Linked DNA regions of Homo sapiens. The protein of the gene in region 3 interacts with the protein of the main gene of each other region in a pairwise test. Each region holds a gene or a part of one and is shown on either strand. Other genes may lie near its edges.

What was found.
Region 1: the proteins of PBXIP1 (region 3) and LCA5L interact in binary tests that used the Homo sapiens proteins (3 or more experiments, as listed by UniProt).
Region 2: the proteins of PBXIP1 (region 3) and WASHC3 interact in binary tests that used the Homo sapiens proteins (3 or more experiments, as listed by UniProt).

Annotation. Positions count from the first base shown.
Region 1 is NC_000021.9:39,444,228-39,447,976, forward strand, and holds the start of LCA5L (lebercilin-like protein), read right to left. Parts: upstream 1,552-3,749; 5' UTR 1,498-1,551; exon of another isoform or gene 1,223-1,497; intron 519-1,222; exon of another isoform or gene 417-518; intron 1-416.
Region 2 is NC_000012.12:102,059,929-102,063,677, reverse strand, and holds the start of WASHC3 (WASH complex subunit 3), read left to right. Parts: upstream 1-1,686; 5' UTR 1,687-1,715; coding exon 1,716-1,766; intron 1,767-2,331; coding exon 2,332-2,430; intron 2,431-3,749. UniProt on the Homo sapiens protein: Acts as a component of the WASH core complex that functions as a nucleation-promoting factor (NPF) at the surface of endosomes, where it recruits and activates the Arp2/3 complex to induce actin polymerization, playing a key role in the fission of tubules that serve as transport intermediates during endosome sorting.
Region 3 is NC_000001.11:154,949,428-154,953,176, forward strand, and holds part of PBXIP1 (pre-B-cell leukemia transcription factor-interacting protein 1), read right to left. Parts: intron 2,495-3,749; coding exon 2,368-2,494; intron 2,109-2,367; coding exon 2,044-2,108; intron 1,971-2,043; coding exon 1,805-1,970; intron 1-1,804. UniProt on the Homo sapiens protein: Regulator of pre-B-cell leukemia transcription factors (BPXs) function. Inhibits the binding of PBX1-HOX complex to DNA and blocks the transcriptional activity of E2A-PBX1.

The DNA.
Region 1 (3,749 bases), on a different chromosome or scaffold from region 3:
AACTCCTACATGATTCCTGTCTTTGCGCTGGGAAGAAGGCTCTGGGTTCTTTTGTTCTTCAGGACAGTCCCTTGTAAAGCTCTTGCCATAGTTCTGTTCCAGGGGCACTGTCATATTTATACCTAACAAAGCTAAGGGGTGTCTTTACATTTTTAGCTTGTTAGCAGGATGCTTATATGGCCTTGCTGACCCGGTTTAAAAGTTGCAATTTGCAAAATACATACTGAAAATACTGCACTTTTACCTATGGAAGTTGTAATTTATATAAGGAAATTGTAATTTATATAATCCTTTAAAAAACTTACTCATACGAAATAACAGAGAACGGGGAAATACCATTAAGACTGTCATGCTCAAGTGGGGGAGGGGCAGACTCAGGGAAACCAATTAGGAAGCAAGTAAAATAATCCACGCACCAGATGATGGGGGCCTGGACCAAGGTGGTGACAGTGGCGGTTGAGAGAAATGGTAGAATTGTGAATCTATTCTGGGTGCATTTTGAAGGCAGTGCTGACAGACTGAAGGTGAGGAAGAGAAAAACAGGACTCAAACAGGATGCAAGACTCGGGCAACTGGAGGATGGAATTTCCAGCAACTATGATGGATTAAGATTGTGGGAGGACAGGCTTGGCTTGGGGAATTATTGAGCGCTATCTTGGACGAGCTGTGTTTGAGATGCCGTAGACATCCAAGTAGGGATGTGGCAGGCAGCTAAATGCAGGGATCTGGTGTTCAGGGGAGGGGCGAGGGCTGGGAATGCACACTTGGGGCTCACTGGAATTCAGATAGGCTCTGAGTACAGGCGACTGGATGAGTTCATCTAGGGATTGAGTGTAGACAGAAAAAAGGCTCAAGCTCACATTCAGCCGTGAAAACTGGTCTCTGAAAAAAGTTAACCGTTGGCTTAAGTGTGGCAACGAAACGTTAACACGCTGAGGGGAGGGTGTGGATAAAGAGCCCCGAGGCTGGGTGAGTGGGGGACAAACACAGACAGAGAAGACATTTCAAAAGATTTAGATTCCTACGAGATAGGGAGATGCCAGCGCTAAGGTTAGAAAGAAAAACTAATCCAAAGCAAAACAGCAAGTAAGCAGAGGCAAAATCGGAGGTCAGATAGAAGATTCAGATAGAAAAACCCCAAAGTTCCCTCGGTGGGGCGGCGGTGAGATCGGCCTCCGCCCCCTCGCCAGACCCAGGCGCGGCCCCGGGAGCGCTAGGTCACCTCGGCCCAGGCCGTCCCCCTGCCCAGCGGGCCTGAGAGTACGTGTGTCGCCGGGGCGCCCGGTCACTGCCGAGCCGGGGTAGCTGTTCCTTGGCAAACTGTGCCGCGAGGAGGAAACGGCGGGGCGCCAGCGAGGCAGGCAGGGGCGAGGACTGAGTGACCGGCGATACTGGAAGCCCAGAAAGAGCGTAGCAGGAGGGTCCGGAAGGGCCCAGAGCTGGGGCTGTAACAGGGTAACCGGCTGAGGGGGACGACGGCAGCAGCGGGGCCGTTACCTGCTCCGCGCTGTTCCCACGACTGCGCCAACGCCGCAGCGCCGGCGCGTCCCCATGGAAACCCGCGCGCGGGGCCTCCTGGGAAGCGCCGGCCTGCGGGGGCTGGGCGCGCGCATGCGCACTCGGGCAGCAGGAGCCGCGGCGGGGAGGGGCGTCTTGGGCCTGGAGGTCAGTGTGGCCTCGCGTTTGTCTTCGGTGACGGGAAGTGAGTTTCTTGTGTAGACGTCTGTAAACGATCCTCCTGCCGTCCCTGTTCGGCGCCCGGGACCCTGCCTTCCCGCGTGGCCGCACCGAGACGAGGGAGCCTGTCACGCGCTCTGGCGCTCTCCTGACCTCTTAAGGCTCTGTCAGTCTTAGGTAACTTGAGTCAGTAGGTGGGTGTAGACGCCTGGTCAATTCCTGGGAAGCACAGTTCCCCTATTAACCCCTTGTCATAAAGACGATTTTTTTTTTTTTTTTGTAAAACAAAATCTGATGACAAAACAATGCATGTTTGGCATAGAGAATTTAGAAATGTACAGGCAAGTCCAAAGCAAAAGTCAAAATCACCTAGATGATGGAGTTATAGATGTTTTTTAATGACAGCATAGGAATTTGGCATAATTTAGGAAGACTTACATTGTTTCCTTTTATTTATTTACTTTTTTTCCTGCATCAAAGCCATGTTGAATATCCTTGCAGATGAATCTTTGAGGTCACCCCTGACTGTTTCCTTAGGATAAATTCCTACAAGCGAGGTTGCAGGGCCAAAGCATATGCTCACTTTGAGGCTTTCTAAAGGTAGAGGGAAACTGCCTTCCAGTAAGTGTCCCGATACTTGGCCCGCATTGGAAATTCTCTTTTTTCTTAAAATTTTTTTGCCCATTTTATTGTCAAAAATTGGCATCTTTAATTGTATTCACTTCCTTTTTAGTAGGAAGAATAGACTTTTTCCCATATCTTGAGTGCCATTTGTCCTTATTGTGTGATTTGCATTTTCCTGTCTTTTGTCCATTTTAAAACTTGACATTCATCTTTGTAAAAATGGGTTTTGTAAGGACTTTTGATGCTTGAAAACTTGGCTTGTGATATACGTTGCAAATATTTCCTCAATTTGTCAGTTACCTTTAATTTTGTTTACAGTGTATTTTGGTATTTGTGTAGAGTCAAGCTTATTACATTTCTCTATAGTTTCTGCATTTGGTTTTTATATAAAAGGAGAAACGGGTGTTTTTTTTCAAATTGACTTTAATCCTACTTTGGTAGAAGTGGGTTAGGACAAGCTTTCTCTCCATATCACCATTTCTTCCTCTAGAAATGCATGACCCACCCTGAGTTTTGGTGGGCCATGCATTTCTAGAACTCCTTAGGTAGGGAATTATCCGTATAAGATGGGTGCCGGTTGTTTTTGCTGGTGGTGGTGGGCGGGGCAACATCTCCAGGTAGGCAAACATTAGACAAATGTCACTCTAGACTTGACATTATGGAAAGATGGGCTGATGCTTGGTGGGTGGTGGTGGCCCCATGACAGTAACGAGAGCGGAGTTTTGCCATTGCGGGAGCATCCAACCCTGGAGCTCATGACTGGAGGAATTGAAAGGTAGAGTTTCCTGAGAATGGTTTCCTCCTCTTTTCTACCAGCTTTTCCCAGTCTGTAGACATGATAAGTCACTGCAAATCTGCCCTTGAATCTTTCTTTGCTTTCGCTTTTGCTTTTTTTTTTTTTTTTTTTTGAGACGTATCACTCTATCGCTCAGGCTGGAATGCAGTGGCGCCATCCCAGCTCACCACAACCTCCGCTTCCTGGGTTCAGGTGATTCTCCTGCATCAGCCTCCTGAGTAGCTGGGATTACAGGTGTGAGTCACAACACCCGGCTAATTCTTTTTGTATTTTTAGTAGAGATGGGGTTTTGCGATGTTGGCTAGGCTGGCCTTGAACTCCTGACCTCAAGTGATCTGCCCGCCTCGGCCTCCCAAAATGTTGGGATTTCAGGCATAAGCCACCGTGCCTGGCCTTTGCTTTTGCTTTCGAAGGGGTGTTCTTTTCTGTGTACACAATGGAAGGAGAAGAGCCATGGCCTTTCACTATTCTGGGGCCATCTCCATCATGCCACATAAAAAGCATAGCCTTTATTTCTCTATATTAGGTTCCTAGGTTCCTAGGGATGTCATAACAGACTACCACGAACTTAGGGGCTTAGAACAATAGAACTTTATCTTCTCACATTTCTGGAGGTCAGAAGTATGAAACCAAGTTGTCTGAAAGTCCATGT
Region 2 (3,749 bases), on a different chromosome or scaffold from region 3:
ACCCACACCCAAATAATTGCTACAGATGGCCTATGAATCACATTAGATAAACATGGACTATAGTATCAAATCTGGCATAAAAGGCCCTTAAACGAAAATTTTCTGGCTACGTCTCCTGAGGCAGAATAGGGTCTGGAGGCAGGGAACCTAACGCCGATTCACGCTGACTTCCTAGAACTAAATCAAAAGGTAAACCCCAAATTTCCACACCTAAGTAACAAAAGGACCAGCGGCTACTCCCTTTGCAAATCCCCACCTTTTCTGACAGGCAGATGGAAATTGAAAGTACCTCAACCAATCAGACTGATTGCGGGCCAAATCTTCCTTTGCATAGAAGTGCAACTAAGTAACATCACTTTAGCCAATGATTGGTTGCTTTCCACAACCAATCAGATGTTTGTATAGGAGTATGACCTTTGTCATTTTACTTCAGCCTCTGATTGGTTGCTTTCCATAACCAATCAGACTGATTGTGGGCCACCACTTCATTTGCATGAGGAGAACACCAGTGTCCAATGGGAAATCTCTAGTGGGTATTTGGACCTAAGAAGATTCTGTATCCAGTACACTGTGGAGCGTACTTTGGTTTTCAATGAATCTTTGCTTTTGTTGGTTCATTCTCTCCTTGATTTGTGCGTTTTGTCCAATTCTTTGTTCAAAAGAACCTGGACACCCTCCACCAGTAACACTCTTACCTCATTTCCTACCATTCTCCATTTATGGGATTATTTGCTTCAACCAAACCAACAGGCCAGGTGCCAGTGGCTCACACCTATAATCCCAGCACTTAGGGAGGCCAAGGCATGAGGATCATTTGAGCCAAAGGGTTTGAGACTAAGGTGAGCTATGATCCTCACTGCACGCCAGACTGGGTAACAAAGCGAGACCCCCCATCTTTAAAACAAAACTGCCCACTGCAGTCTTGGTCTTCATCTTTTTGATGCTCCCTGTAAGTGGCAGTCACTTCCGTAGGTTTGTGCCTCACATCTAGTAGTTGACATTTTATTTCATGTTTTAAAAACCTTTGGAAGACCAGGCGCGTTGGCTCACGCCTGTAATCCCAGCACTCTGTGAGGCTGAGGCAGGAGAATCGTGTGAGGCTGAGGCAGGAGAATCGCTTGAGGCCAGGAGTTCGAGACCAGCCTGGGGAAATAGCGAGAACTTGTGTGTATACACACACACACGCTTTGGAAGTAGGTCTTATTTCTCATTCTTCAGGGCATAAACCTCTCCCGTGCAGCAATCAAACTCAATCTTTGTTTTCCCAGTAAAAGCCTAGCAGAGTATATGGCACTTAGGATTAACAACAACAAAAAAAAAATTGTTGCTCAAGGAATGACGGAGTTATTATATAACAGACAGGACTAAGTAGGGATAACCTCAAAAGGACGCAACTTCTGGCTTTGTTTTTTTGTTTTGTTTTGTTGCCTCCTTTCTAAGATTTCAGTGCTCTAACTGCATCCTTGCACCACCGCGCGCCACCCCGAAATTGACGTCACAATCTGGACTAAAACTACCAATCCCAGAATGCCGAGCGAGGAGGCGGGCTCTCCGGAAGCCGCCGAGTGATTAGTGAGCGGAGAAGCTTTCTTCCGGCGGGAAGGGCCCCGGAGGCGGGCACTTGGGGGGAAAGTTGAGACGTGATTACCGGGTTGGGCGGGCCCCATCTGGGAGGGGTTTGTGGGTGAACTCGGGGTCCACCGCCCGCTGAGGAGATGGATGAGGACGGGCTTCCTCTCATGGGGTCAGGCATAGACCTGACCAAGGTTTGTAAAAGACGGTGCTAGACTCCCGACGAGCCGGGAGGAGGATGGGGAAGACGCAGCTTTCCGGGGAGACACCCACCTTCCGAGTCCCCACCCTGTCACGGCCTCGGGCCCTTGTGACAGGCCTGTGGGGCCTCAGGAGGGAGAGCCCCACAGTCCACCTTGAAATGGGGTCCCTCCTGAGCTGATTAAGGAGACGGTGTGCATCTCCCAACTGTCGCTTCCCATCTCGCTTGTCTCTCTGCCGCCGGCGACACACGCCGGTTGCGATAGCTAGCCCTACCTCTTATTCAGCCCCCAAGATTTTGTGTGTGTTTATGTGTGGTGCTTTTTGCCTGCCAAAATTCGTACCAGTGAGTCTAGAGCCTGTTCTCAAACTTTTGTGCACCTCTGTCATCTTCGGACACCCCACCCACAGCTTAGGAAACAAGTTAATGACTATTCCCAGTCCTTCAAGAAATTCATATCACACAGCAAAGTGCCTCGTGATTATGTCCAAATATGAAAAGATTTGCACTGTGTACGTTCCTCCTGTATGAACCATGTTTGTTTTTACGTAACACAGGTGCCAGCTATTCAACAGAAAAGAACGGTGGCTTTTCTAAACCAATTTGTGGTGCACACTGTACAGTTCCTCAACCGCTTTTCTACAGTTTGTGAGGAGGTAGGTCCGGTGATACTGGTTTATAGAGTCGCCTGGAAATCACCTTTCACTGCTGAGACTGACAAATGGAGTAAAACAAGAATTACAGTCTTTATTCATGTACCGTGACCTCTCATCACCCAATTGTGTTAACACATCTTAGGTTCTCTTTTACTCTGTTAAAATCAATCCTGCACCCCTCCTCTACTGAGTTAGTGTTCTAGAGGTCCCTGTGAGATAGGTCAGTCAGGCTTATTGCGATTAAAGGGAACAATAGGAAATCTAATTTTTTTTTTTTTTTTTTTTTTTTTTGTGAGACAGGGTCTCACTCTGTCACCCAAGCTACAGTGCAGTGGCGCGATCTCGGCTCACTGCAACCTCCACCTCCCGGGTTCAAGCGATTCTCCTGCCTCAGCCTCCTGAGTAGCTGGGATTACAGGCATGCGCCACCATGCCTGGCTAATTTTTTATATTTAGTAGAAACGGGGTTCCAACATGTTGATCAAGCTGGTCTCGAATTCCTGACCTTGGGCGATCCACTAGCCTCGGCCTCCCAAAGTGCTGGGATTACAGGCGTGAGCCACCGCGCCCGGCTTCTAAAATTTCACAGTTGAAAACAGTTTTTATTTTGCAATTTGTCATTCGTTCCCGTACCCCAAAACCACATTGTTTAAATTTATTTTACATTCTGGATCTAAAAGATGGCTAGAGGAGATAGCCTAGAAACATAACTTTGGCATCAAATATGATTATAGAAATGAAAATATTTTCTGCAAATGACTTGTGATGTAAGGATTAAGTACCCAACTAGGGATTAGGTACCAGAACTGGCACAGCAGTGCGCACCTGTAATCCCAGCTACTCGGGAGGCAGAGGCAGGAGGATCACTTGCGCCCGGGAATTTGAGACAAGACTGGACAACAGAGAAACTCAGTGTTTTGTTTTTGTTTTTGTTTTAAAAAAGAGGATTAGGTACTAGATCCAGGATCCAGGGAATCCCTGTCTTTTAAAAAGCCAAAAGAGGATGGGGAAGACAATGGGAACCATGGGTTGAAATTGCATTTAAGGAAAGAGCAAAGTAAATTATGGGACTTAGATATTCACAAGTAAGTCTGTTGAACATTCTGTCTTATGTAAGGTATAGCCTTAGCAATTAGAGTTTTTGTTAAGTGTGTTACTACTATTAATAAAAATTGCATGGAGATGGGAAAACTATTTTTTACTTGTATGAAATTCCAGTTATTGTTTTGTCTAATTATCAACATTTCTTCTGCCTTCTAAGACAAAGTAAAATATAGTAATTGGTAGAGTAAGGGGCTTAATTCAATTTAGTTTTATAT
Region 3 (3,749 bases):
CTGGAACACCCAGAGGATTTGGTTTTCATCCTCCACCCCATCTCCATCATGAATGAGACACAGGGATCCCCAAATTCCATCCTGAGCCTCGGCATCTACATCTTTATATAAGCACACACTTCCTAGATTCACCTAAGGATAGCCAATGTGTGGCTCTCACAGTCTTGTTTCCACCTCCCATACCTGGAACAGTGTTAACTGATCATGGCACCTGGCATGTTCTTTAAATCCTTTTCCACACAGTGCTCCAGGCAGACCACACCAATCAATCACAGGTGATACCATGTATGTTTCATGTACCATGTGGAACAGGTATGCCAGCCCTGGCCCAAACCTTAGCACAAGGGATGTGAACCAAGAACTGGGAAGACGCCCTGACTATAGTGGGAGAGGGGAGGGTCAGGATGTGTGGGTAAATAGGAAACATTCCTTTTGGGGGAGGATGCTAGGACAGACGCCTGGCCTAGGTGGGTTACCCTAGCCCAGCCCCTCCTGCCTGTGCCTCCCAAAGTGTGAGGATTACAGGTGTGAGCCACCACACCCAGCCTATTTTTATTTTTATTTATTTTATTTTATTTTATTTTATTTTATTTATTTTTATTTTTTGAGGCAGAGTCTACCTCTGTAACCCAGGCTGGAGTGCAGTGGCACAATCTTGGCTCACTGCAACCTCCGCCTCCCAGGTTCAAGCGATTCTCCTGCCTCAGCTTCCCAGGTAGCTGGGAAGTAGCTGGGACTACAGGCGTGCACCACCACACCGAGCTAATTTTTGTATTTTTAATAGAGACGGGGTTTCACCATGTTGCCCAGGCTGGTCTCAAACTTCTGACCTCAGGTGATCCACCCACCTTGGCCTCTCAAAGTGCTGGGACTACAGGCGTGAGCCACTGCACCCTGCCGCCTATTTTTATTTCCTTTAGAGACAGGGTCTCCCTCTGTTGCCCAGGCTAGAGTGAAGTGGGATGACCATGGCTCACTGCAGTCTTGAATTCCTGGGCTCAAGCAATCCTCCTACCTCAGCCTCCCAAAGTGCTGGGATTATAGGCACGAGCCACCATGCCTGGCCCAGGTCTGCATCATCTTTGCCTGACCACTGCAGTTGCCTCCTAAATGGCCCCCAGGCCCTCCATCCTGTCACTCAACAGGGACCAATTCCTACACTCCTCTGCCACAAGCCTGGAACAGAGCTCCTTAGCACAAGACAGGTGGTCCCCACTCCTTTGCTGATGCTGCAGCCTTGGCCTAAAACATTCTCTTTTCCCTGCCCTACGTACCAAAAGCCTACTCTGTGCTCAGGGCTCCACTCAAATGTCACCTCTCACTGTCCCAGCCTCTCCCTTGCCCTCAACCAGTCCCCTGACTGAATGGCCTCTCCTTCCTTTGGGAGTACCTTAATTACAGTTCTGTACCACTCTTAGGTCTGATATGCACCTTGGCTCAGTCTGATCTGCCGCTTACATAGGCGGTAACCAACCATCTTCCCTCTGCCCAGGCCCAGGGCCAGCACAAGGAAGGGACTCCAGAAATGAGGGTTGAATTCTGGAAGCAAGAAAAGAGGAGGTCCCCATGGCAGAGAGGAAAGAGTCAACCAGATGTGGGCCCTGCCCCTTACCAGCAGTGTGACCTTGGTCAAGTCATTCAACCTTTCTGGGCCTCAACGTCCCAGGGGTAGTGGTGAGAAAGGAGAGCACCAAGCTGCTCAGCCCTAGGGCCTGGACCACAGCATGTGCTCAGTAGTGATGGCTGATCCCTCTCCCATACCTTCTAGAAGGAGAGTGACAGGAGAGGCAAGGAAGACTCTCACCTGCTTTGGGGGTTGAAGGCAGGCTCTGTGGAGGGCTCTGGCCTTCCAGGTCCTGTGTGTCTGGTCCCAGGCCTGTCACCACGGTGGTCTCCTGCAGGTCTCCCTGGACTACTGTGTCTCCTGGGCCAGGAGGCTCCACACCACAAACATCACCTTCCAGGGTGCCCTAATGCAGATGCAGCAGTGAGCAGCTGCTAGCCCTCCCCGCCTCCCTTCCTTCCCACAGCAAATCTCCTCACCTTGACCTCAGTCTCCTCTGTTAGAATGCTGCCAGACTGAGGGCTTTCAGTCTGGAAGAGCGTCCCTGCGGTAGGAGAAAAGGCGCAGAAAAACCCACTGCCCCAGCTGAATTTCCTTTGCAGCCCTCTGTCCATCCCACGGGCCCCTACCAGGTTGGAAGAGGCAGGAAAAAGCCAGGATGGAATGAGAAAAGGAGTTTGTCAACTGAGATTAATGGAGGAACTAAAACGAACCAGCCTCCCTTTCTCTGAGGAAACTGAGAAACCCCAAAATATGGAGAATAGCTTTGTCCGGTAAGCTATGTCCTAAGCAGGGCCCAGTACCTTCTCCATCCATGGTCCCAGCTAATTCTTTCCCATCTGTCTTGGAGGGGCTGTGAGGGGCCTGCAGGGCTCTCTCAGATTCTGGGTCCATCCTGGATGCCGGGCCCAGTGTCTCCACTGGCAGGCTCTGGGAGGAGAAGTGCAAGGAGAAGGGCTGCACCCAAGAATGGGGCCCCAGCCCACATCCCAGAAACACACACATTCAGTCATGAGCTGGCCCAAAAAGGGGCTCGGGGCAGCACCAAGTGCTCGGCATTCCCCAGCCTCACTCACTGCGAGGAGGAACTTTCAGGGGCCAGGTTTCCGCTACACAGCGCCGCACCACCAGACCAAGGCACTGGTTGCAGTACAAACCTGGTGCCCCGCCTCCAGAAGGTGAGCTAGAGCCTACGTTTCCCTCCCATCAAGATCAGCAGCACTTCCTTCCCCACAGATGAACAACCCAGATATTATAATATTAAGGGTGGGAAGAAGGCAAGAGAACAAAGTCCCCTGGGTGCCCACGGGTCACAGTTATGCCTCCCAGGGTGTCCCTGCAGCTGCCCTCTCAACTGGACAACTACTTACATCTCTCAAGCCTTTCTGGCCTTTCCCGCTGGCCCCTGACACTCCCCCGACACCCGTCTCCCAGCAGCTGCTCACAGAAGCCCAACCCACCCCAACCACAGACAGCCTGTCTCCAGGGCACTCTCAGCCTGGACATCCAGCCCTGGCCACACAGCCTCGGCCTCCTCCCTCTGCCTACTCCCCTTCCATAGGGCCCTGGCCTGCCACCCGCCCCGTGGCTCCAACTATCCCTCTGAGAGTAATGCTTCACCTTAGTTATGTCTTTGCTATTTTCAAAACATTTTTATTCTCATGGTCCCCCCTACAAGGCAAAAATCATGACGCCCGTTTTACAGGAGAGGACAGAGAGGTGAAATGGCATGCCCAAGGTCCCCCAGCTGTCAACAAAGACACCTCAACAGGAGGCCAGGGCTCTGAGAGCCTGGTGCCCGTCTGCTCATACCTGCCTTCCCTCTGCCAGTGAGCCCCAGTCCATTATCTTGCTCCAGCGTCATCCCCAAGGTCAACTCCTTACTCCCAGCTGGGTTCCTCAAGGGCACCTCAAACTCAACATGTTGAAACTGAGCTTCTCTCCTCCTCCCCTCCTGGTGGCTCTAATATACAAAGTCGCTACGTCTTGGAACTCTCAGAGATGCCTTTGACAAATTTTTGCCATCCCTTCTCTAGCCACTCAGTTCCCCATCCTGCCAACCCCCTTCTCCCTCCTCAGTGGGCTTCTGCCCCACCAGCTGCTACCTGGACTGCTGCAGGGGGTCTTTGAAACACTCTCTCCCTGTTCCCACCCAGCATGCACAGTGGCTTCACCCTCTGCCTGA